Regions from separate parts of the Homo sapiens genome. Here regions 1 and 3 are each linked to region 2. The links come from fine-mapping of genetic effects on gene expression. A gene starts in region 2. Each other region holds a variant in brackets. All regions are shown on one strand. Distances are from middle to middle.

Evidence for each region. PIP is the estimated chance that this variant, and not a neighbour inherited with it, causes the effect.
Region 1: its variant is the best candidate, but not a certain one, in a credible set for the expression of GAS1RR in nucleus accumbens (GTEx, PIP 0.53).
Region 3: its variant is the best candidate, but not a certain one, in a credible set for the expression of GAS1RR in esophagus muscle (GTEx, PIP 0.55).

The regions. Positions count from the first base shown.
Region 1 is chr9:87,134,894-87,137,658 of GRCh38, reverse strand. No RefSeq gene overlaps it. Among named protein-coding and RNA genes, the nearest start is that of LINC02872, 12 kb to the left of the region's middle. The variant G/A (reference allele first, on the strand shown) is at 1,406.
Region 2 is chr9:86,947,412-86,950,144 of GRCh38, reverse strand. GAS1RR (GAS1 adjacent regulatory RNA) reads right to left here and starts at 1,447. Exons shown (of 7, transcript NR_049794.1): 1 at 1,152-1,447. GAS1 (growth arrest specific 1) reads left to right here and starts at 2,639. Exons shown (of 1, transcript NM_002048.3): 1 at 2,639-2,733.
Region 3 is chr9:86,996,045-86,998,809 of GRCh38, reverse strand. It overlaps GAS1RR (GAS1 adjacent regulatory RNA), which reads right to left. Exons shown (of 7, transcript NR_049794.1): 6 at 1,407-1,496; 7 at 1-216. Among named protein-coding and RNA genes, the nearest start is that of LINC02893, 45 kb to the left of the region's middle. The variant A/G (reference allele first, on the strand shown) is at 1,151.

The DNA.
Region 1 (2,765 bases), 190 kb before region 2:
ATACTGAAGACATTTAAATGTCCCTAGAGCCACAAAAGTTACTCTTTTAATTAAGGACATTTCCTTTTATGACTTTCTGAAGGTAATGGTAACATGCACAAAGATTTAATAGTTAGAGGGATTTTGTTTAAGTGCTGATCACTCTCCATGCAATTGAAGCCTATTTCATGGAGAAATGTCTTTGGTTTTTATATATTTTTTTATTATGACAGCCTTTCCTCTAAAGCAATATTTAAAGTAAATTGGCTGATTTGAGCTTAAGGATTATAGGTGTCTGGTGACTGTTTCAATTAATCATTATTTAAATGAATTTTGTGAAAACCTAGTTTTGCTGTCCAGTTTGGTAATGACCAGCCGCAGATGCCTATTTAAAATGAATCTTAAATGAATTACAATCAAATAAAATTAAGTATTTGGTTTATCAGTGGCAGTAGCCACATTTCAAGTGCTCAATAGCCACATACAGCCGGTGGCTACCATACTGAACACAGAGGTAGAACATTCCCATCATTGTGAAAAGTTCTGTCAATGGCACTGAGTCCTAAAGCATAAAGGCAGGTGGACTGCACAGTGAGCACACTACAGATGTGGGAAGGTGTCAGCACTTGGAAGGCGGGCACCATGTAGCTTAAGGAACGAACAGTGAAAGGTGATGTCCTATCTGGGCAAAGTACCCAGGCAGAATAGGTTTGATGTATCAGTGTCGAAACAGGTGCATGAAGTTCAAACCTGAACAATTCTGGGCAGGATAATAGAATCTAGTCCATATACCAGGAGCAAACTCAGGGCTAAGAAATGGACAGTACCAAAGTCTCTGGAGCAAAAAAGAATAAGAGAGAAAGACAGAAAATGTAAAAACACAATTGGGATATGGCAGTCATCTAGACTCTCAAGGAATGTTGTATTCAATTCCCGCTGCTGCTTTAACAAATGCCCACAGACTTTCTGGCATAAAACAACACAAATTTGTTATTTTATAGTTCTGTAAGTCAGGAATCTCACTGGGCTAAATGAAGGTGTCGGCAGTGCTGTGTTTCTTCTGGAGGTTCTAGTCTCCTGGCCTGTCTCCAGCTTGTAGAGGCGACTTGCATTCTTTGGCTCTGTGGCCCCTTCCCCCATCCTCAAAGCAGCAGCATAATCTGTTCAAATCCCCCTTTGACTCTTAGCCCTATTTCCCTCATCAAGTCTTCTTCTCTGAGTCTTATCCCCCCCAACCTCCCTCTTATCAGGACCCTTCTGATTATATTGGAACTGTTCAGGTAAACCGGGATAATCTCCTCACCTCAAGGTCCATAACCTGAATTACATCTGCAAAGTCCCTTTTGCTGTGTAAGGTAACATATCCATAGGTTTTCAGGATTAAAATGTGGACATCTTTGCAGGGAGAGGCATTATTCTGCCCATC[G/A]AAAGTACAGTAACACCAAAATGCCTGCTTGAGGTTTGGTGACTTCACCAATTTACAATTTAGAGGTTGTAAAACCCACAGAGCAGGAAACAATATATTAATTTATATCCCACCTAGTTTCAGAAATGAATTAATAGTGTATAACAAGATATAACAGAAGATAAAGGGCATGTCATATCACATATAAATAAGGCAAAAAGAGAAAAATGGAACGGGATAAGAACATAATGGAAGAAAGAATGAGATTAGGAAATATGCTCTATAATGACCTCCACTCATCCATCAATACACCTATAGTCATCTTAAAGTCAGAATTCCTTGACTAGAGAATCCAAGTGTGTCCTCAATGTTACTTGAGTAATTTTGACAAGGAGTGCAACTAGAATTTTCAAATAACCACATCCTGAGGGTCAAAACAACAGAGATGGTAACTGAGCATAGGGGAGGATGTTTGTTTCAATGTAGCAGAGTGAAACTGCCTCTCCCTTTCCCTTAAGATTTGGGAAGATACAGCCTGAGGAAGAAGTGATGCAACTTGCTATGTTTCTTAAAGTCCAACTATATTTTGGTCACTGAGACTTCAAGGGTATTTAGAATTTAGCATTTTCCAAGTGTTAGCCCTTAAGAGATTATTTATTGTTTATATTTCACTTAATTCCAGGAGTGAGTTAGTGGATTATGAAAACAAGTATAATATAAAATAGAGTGTTAAATACACTTTAGATGAAAGAAAAAAGATACATTAGAGAAAGAATGCCATGAAGGAAGAAATGAAGCTTAAAAAGTTCATTGTGTATCGATCTAAATCTGTTCAGGTTTAAGATATGGCCCTAACCTGGCCACTTATACAATTGACAATGTTTTTAAGATGGAAAAGAACAAAATGCATCACTGAAAAAGATTTCAATTATTCTTCTAAAGCAAGATATGTAATTCTTCCTGGTGTCCTCCTGAACATTACATAATGATTGATGTCCTCAACAATGTACTTTCCTTGGATATTGAAGCCTCGTAAGGTTTTTTTCTATGGCCCTTTGCATAAGATCTTGGTATGCCCAAAGCACAATTTCATAAAAAACAATTCTGTAGAAATCCAATAAAATAAAATTTGCTTACTGGCTTCTTTTTTAAATTGATACATTATATTTATACATATTTATGGGATCCATGTGATATTTGGTTACATATATAGAATATGTAATGATTAAGTCAGGGTATTTAGGATATTTATCACCACTAGCATGTGTCATTTCTGTGTGTTGAGAACATTCCAGATCCTCACTTCTGGCTCTTTTGAAATGTATAGTATATTGTTGTTAACTTATAGTTACCCTACTCTACTATGAAGCATGAGAACTTA
Region 2 (2,733 bases):
GACTGAGATTGAAAACATCAAATTAGGAGATGCAATTTAAAATCAAGGCACTAGATGTGGTTACCTAAGGAGTTGAGAGACAGAAGGAGCCACCAGGCAGTAAAATGAGAGAACAGGGGAGTATGGAGTTTCGGAAGCCAAAATTTTAGAAAGCGCTTTGAAAAGGAGGTGATCAGTCATGGCCAATGCTGCTGAAACGTCATATAAGCTGAGGACTGAGAAGTGACAATCAGGTAGAGCAAGGTTTTGGTCACTAGCGACTCTACATAATCGAATGGAACTCGATTATGTAGAGTGAATCGAGTGGGGAAAGTGAGTAAAAGCAAGATTTTCAAGTTTTCATGAAAATGGGATAGTGACTGAATAGGGACGTGGAGTCTAGAAGGTTTTACTATTATGTTTTTTTAAGATAGAAGACAGTATAGCCTATTGTGGTGAATGGAAATGACACAGTAAAAAGTGGGCTGAGAACCCCTCAGGCTTGCAATGCTAATGCTATGTGACTGGGATGCAGAAGTCCCCAAAGCATGCAGAGCTCTTGGGCCTCCCTTAAACCCCACTGAGAGCTGTATCAAGGCCAAGGTGGGGCAAGTGTTACCAAAAACACAGCAACAACACAGAAAAGAAACATGTTAACTTTGAGAGCAGTGATTCTCAAAGTTTGAGAGCAGCATTCCCTGAGAACTTGTTAGAAATGCATATTCTTGGGACCCACCAGTCCAACTAAATCAGAAACTCCAAAAACTAGGGATCTGAGTTTTAGGATACGTGCTAAGGTTTGGGTCCCACTATTCTAAAGGAACTCAACAAAAATTCAAGTAAAGATGAAACCGAGTGCTGACTTTGTTCCTTATGGGCCTAAAATAACAAAGCTTTAAAGACAAGAGGGGATTTTTCAATTGTCTAATTGGCTTCGAACCTTACCTGTGGAGGGATCCCAGACACAGAGAAGGTGTCTGAGTTGTCCAAGTCCTCCAGGCCGGACTGAGAGGACAACTCCAAATAATAGAGAAAAAAAAAGAGACAGAGAGCCAGGGATATGGTTGTTTTGATGTGCCATGAAGTTGCAGCCTTTCTGGATTTTTTTAGTATCGATTTATATTGCTGTTTGTCTACCAATACTCAAATCAGAGCAAGACGGTCCGCCTTACCTCAGTCTGGCTCTTTTAAGGTTTGATTTTGGTTTTGGGGACTGCAGAGGTGCAGCTTCCCACGGCAGACCAAGCGCCTCTGAGGAACGCAGCAGCTTCAGCAGGTACAGGAAGATTTCCCGCAGCCGGAGGAATCTCCTAGTGCTGGGCCTCCGGCTGTGACTTTTGCCATTTCAAATTCACTTGGCCTCTAGGGAGAGGCAGACAGCCCGACGCTGAGCGCGTCGGAGCCCCGGCTCCCTCTGCTTCTGGAGAGGAGATTTAGCCTTAATTTTTGTGACAGATGGAGTTGATAGTCTCTCCACGGAAAGGGGAGGAAAAAAGCGCCAGTTTTTGACAGGCCGCAGACGCCCGCTGCCTCTGGTGGCGGAAGGCTGCGTTGCGCCCCAGTTAAGGTAGCTCGGAAACTCCCTCGCCGAGAAGGCAGAGGTTTCCTCTGCAGAGCAGCCTCCCTTAAATATACTGAGGGGCTGAAACTTACACTTTAATATAAACCTTTGGTGCGTGCCCATTTATTCCGTCTTCTGTCCTGTGACTGCGGCCAGGTGGTAATTGCTCGACATTCCTGAATATTTTTAATGCTAGTTAAATTTTTTCATTATTGCACGTGTTGCAAGCTTATCTTCCTAAGAAATTATTTCGGTTGATTGGATTTCGGTCTTGCAATTTGAAAACGATGCCTGGCGCACGGGCGGTACCTGCCAGATGGCCTAGCTGGGGCTGGGGGGTGGCGGGCGGGTTGTAAGCATCTCATCAACATCTCCCTAATAAAGTGTGTGCTTCTTTCTTGTATGCTTCTTTAAAACAGTTTCAGTCTCACATTTTATCTCTGGATTCTCCCCTTCCCCTCTGTGGTGATCAAGACCCAAAGACAGGGAGCCTGGAAGATAAACTGAGTTCTGAATCCAGTCGAAAGCACAGATGGGGGCCAGCGAGAATTAATAAAACTACAAAAAAAAAAAAAAAGAAAAAAAAAACAAACAAAAAAGGCCCGTGGCTGAGCCGGATGCAAACAGCTGCCCCTAAGCCCTGCCCGCTGGTTCTGTGCGCGAGCTGGGGCTGCATATCCGAGCCTCCTTAAGAGTAGGAGGAGCTCCGGGCCTCCGTCAGGCTCCCTAAGCCGTTCCTTTCAAGCCCTGAATGCCTGAATGTGAGCTGCCCACCACCCTCCCGCCCTCCCCCACTCCGCAACCCCACTCCAGCGGCTCGTAAAAAAAAAAAAAAAAACTTTCAACAACAACAGGCAGGACCAATAGCATCTCGAAAAGCCGGGAAAGGGGGCCGAGCAAAGGGCGAAAGAGAGTGGAGAAAGGAGAAAGCGGGCAGGCTCGGAGCGCGCGGGGCCGGGGCTCGGCGAGCCGGAGGAGCGTTGCTAATGTTTTTGTTTGTTTGCTTTTCCATGCATGCATAATGAGGGGGCACCGCGGCACCACGCGGGGGCTCCCGGCCCACTTTTGTATTTAAAGCCTCGCTGCTAACGAGTCTGCAGCCGGGCTCAGCGGATCCGCTCCCCGGGCTCTTGGTCACCCGAGAAGCTGCCGCCGAGTGAAGCCAGGGAGCCGCTCTCCGGCAGCGCCGACTT
Region 3 (2,765 bases), 49 kb before region 2:
ATTGAGTTTTTCAGTTCCACACTCTGCTTCACCTCTGTAGATGGGACCTGTTTTCCTTCTGAGAAGGGATTGTCACCAGGTTATCACCCCCACACCTAGGATACCTTTGCATAGTATCTGAAGCTGGATTATTTGGGCTCAATTTGTAGTTCTACCACATAGCAGTGTGTTGCCTTGAACAAATTACTTAAATTCTTGGGGTCTCAGTTTCTTCATCTGTAAAATAAGGATAATAATAGGATTTGTCTCAGGATTATAATGAGGGTTAAATAAGTTAATACTTGTATAGTGCTTAGAACAGTGTCTGGTACACAGTAAGCTCTATGTAGATTTTACTTTTTATCACTAATAACAAATTGATTAACTTTATTAACATACAATTTTAATATTATGTCTCATCACTCTAGAGATAGTCTCCCTTAGAAATGGAGAACTGTATGACAGGTTTTTCTATGGAGTACTACTGTGTATTTGGATTCTTAAAAATGCAAAGATATAACGTAGAATAATTGATTTGAGCTTTGTTTTCATGAGTTTTACTTCTCTCTCTGCTCCTTCATTTCTAATTTTTTTATTATTGTTCAGTACAAGTATGATAAAAATTATCCACATCTGTTATTTATCTTTCCATCCTGGGGCAAGGCAAATGTGTATAGTTCCCCCCAGGATAACACGAACCATATGGAGCCTATGGAATTATATGTATTATCAGTTTATAAATTCAGACTTTGCCAAAGACTGTCCACAAGCAGCCCAGAGTTCTGGGGTGCAAGAGTTTGCACTGGGATGTTTATATTCAGCAAACATATTGGTGTAAAACATGCTTGCAGCTGGTGCCTCCTCAGAGAGAGGGGGCTTGACGGTGCTTTGCTGCACATTAGGATCGCCTCAGAAACTTTAAAAAATATCAGTGCTGAGGCCATACTCCATACCAATTAAAATAGAATCTGTTGGGTAGGATCAGTGGTATCAGTATTTTTGGTTTTCCAAATTCTCCAGGTGATTCCATTGTGTAGACAAGCTTGAGAACACCAAAAGCTTTAGAAAAGAAGATTTTGCATCTTTTTGGCCCCTATAGGAACATGCCTAGGAACACAAACACACCCTCATTTGGAACCAGTTTTTGCCATCTCCAGTATACGATGCACAC[A/G]CCTGGGTAGAAATTTCATCTTGCTCAAATCCCAATTAGCATCCCTGAAGTACTATACCTCAAGAATATCCTTCTTAACAACAGCAAGCACTGATTTGACTAGACTAAAGATGATTTAATCTAGCCGTATTGAGAGGGAGAAAGAAAAGAGAGAGAGAGTAAAGAAACACAATCCCCATCCATCCAATTTTCAAGTCAATTGCTACTCATTCAACAAATTACATCCTGGGCTTAACACAAATTCTGTATCTGTTACCCTTAATCACATGCAGTTGTTCCTCAAACAGAGACCAGAAGGTGGCAACCAAGGTAAGCTCCTTACATCAGCTGGCTCCAATTCAGTGTCCTGGAAAGATTCATGCAGAATTGTGGGTCACTTTTCAGAGGACGGTCCACTGGATGCCACTCTTAAGGCCATTTGCTTTGATTTCCTATGAGCAATTTCACTTTCATGAAAATCTCTGGGTCCTGCAATTCCTTATGATGGTCTCAGTGCCTACAGAATCCTTTCCCAAGTTTTCCTCTTGTTGCAGAGAAACAATGAGGCATTTAAGTTACTAGCAAGAGCTGTGTTGCCATCAAGAATTGAATTCCTCATTTTGTTTTCTTAAATATTAAATAGAAGTAATATTTCAGCCGGGTGTGATGACTCATGCCTATAATCGCAGCCCTTTAGGAGGCTGAGGCAGGTGGATCACCTGAGGTCAGGAGTTCGAGGCCAGCCTGGCCAACATGGTCAAAGTCCCTCTCTACCAAAAATACAAAAATTAGCTGGGCATGGTGGTGGGCACCTGTAATCCCAGCTGCTCGGGAGGCTGAGGCAGGAGTATCGCTTGAACCTGGGAGGCGGAGGTTGCAGTGAGCTGAGATCGTATCACTGCACTCTAGCCTGGGTGACAAAAGCGAAACTCCATCTCAAAAAAAAAAAAAATAGAAATAATATTTCAAACAATAATTTTCCTTTGTATGTTAAGTTGCTTTGCTGTATAGAACCTGTTCCTGACTGCTTTAGGTAAATGATTTTAGTGATTACAGATTATCTGTAAAATGAGTAATTATTTAATAACATGATCTCCAAGGCTATTTCTAGTCCTTAAATCTAAAATGATCTGAATTTGAGCATTTAGAGGTGGTAGTGTAGTTGAAAGACAGACAAAAGTTCAAGTACCAATTTCACTACATATTTTGGACAAGTTACTTATTTTTTCTGGGCCTCAATTCCTACACCTCTAAACAAGGAGCTGATTATGGTATTTGCCTCCTACGTCTGGAAAGTCAGGTAGCAAAGCATGGGTTCTAGAGTTAGGCTGCATGGCTTGAACCACAGTCCAAGCAGACTCAGCTATGTCACTTTGAACAAGGTATGTAACATCCTTCTACTTCATTTCCTTCACCTGTAAAATTGGAATATGACAATGAATATTTCATAAGGGAATCATGAAATGATGTAAGTTAATGGATATTGAATTTAGCACAAAACCTGTGTTAAATAACAAACATTTAAAAATAACTATTGCTATCATCACCATGTCATCAGTGTAAAATAAGATTGCACAGATAAAGTACAGATGCTAGAGACGTGCACACTATCATCCTCCTTGTCTTCCCCTCCCCT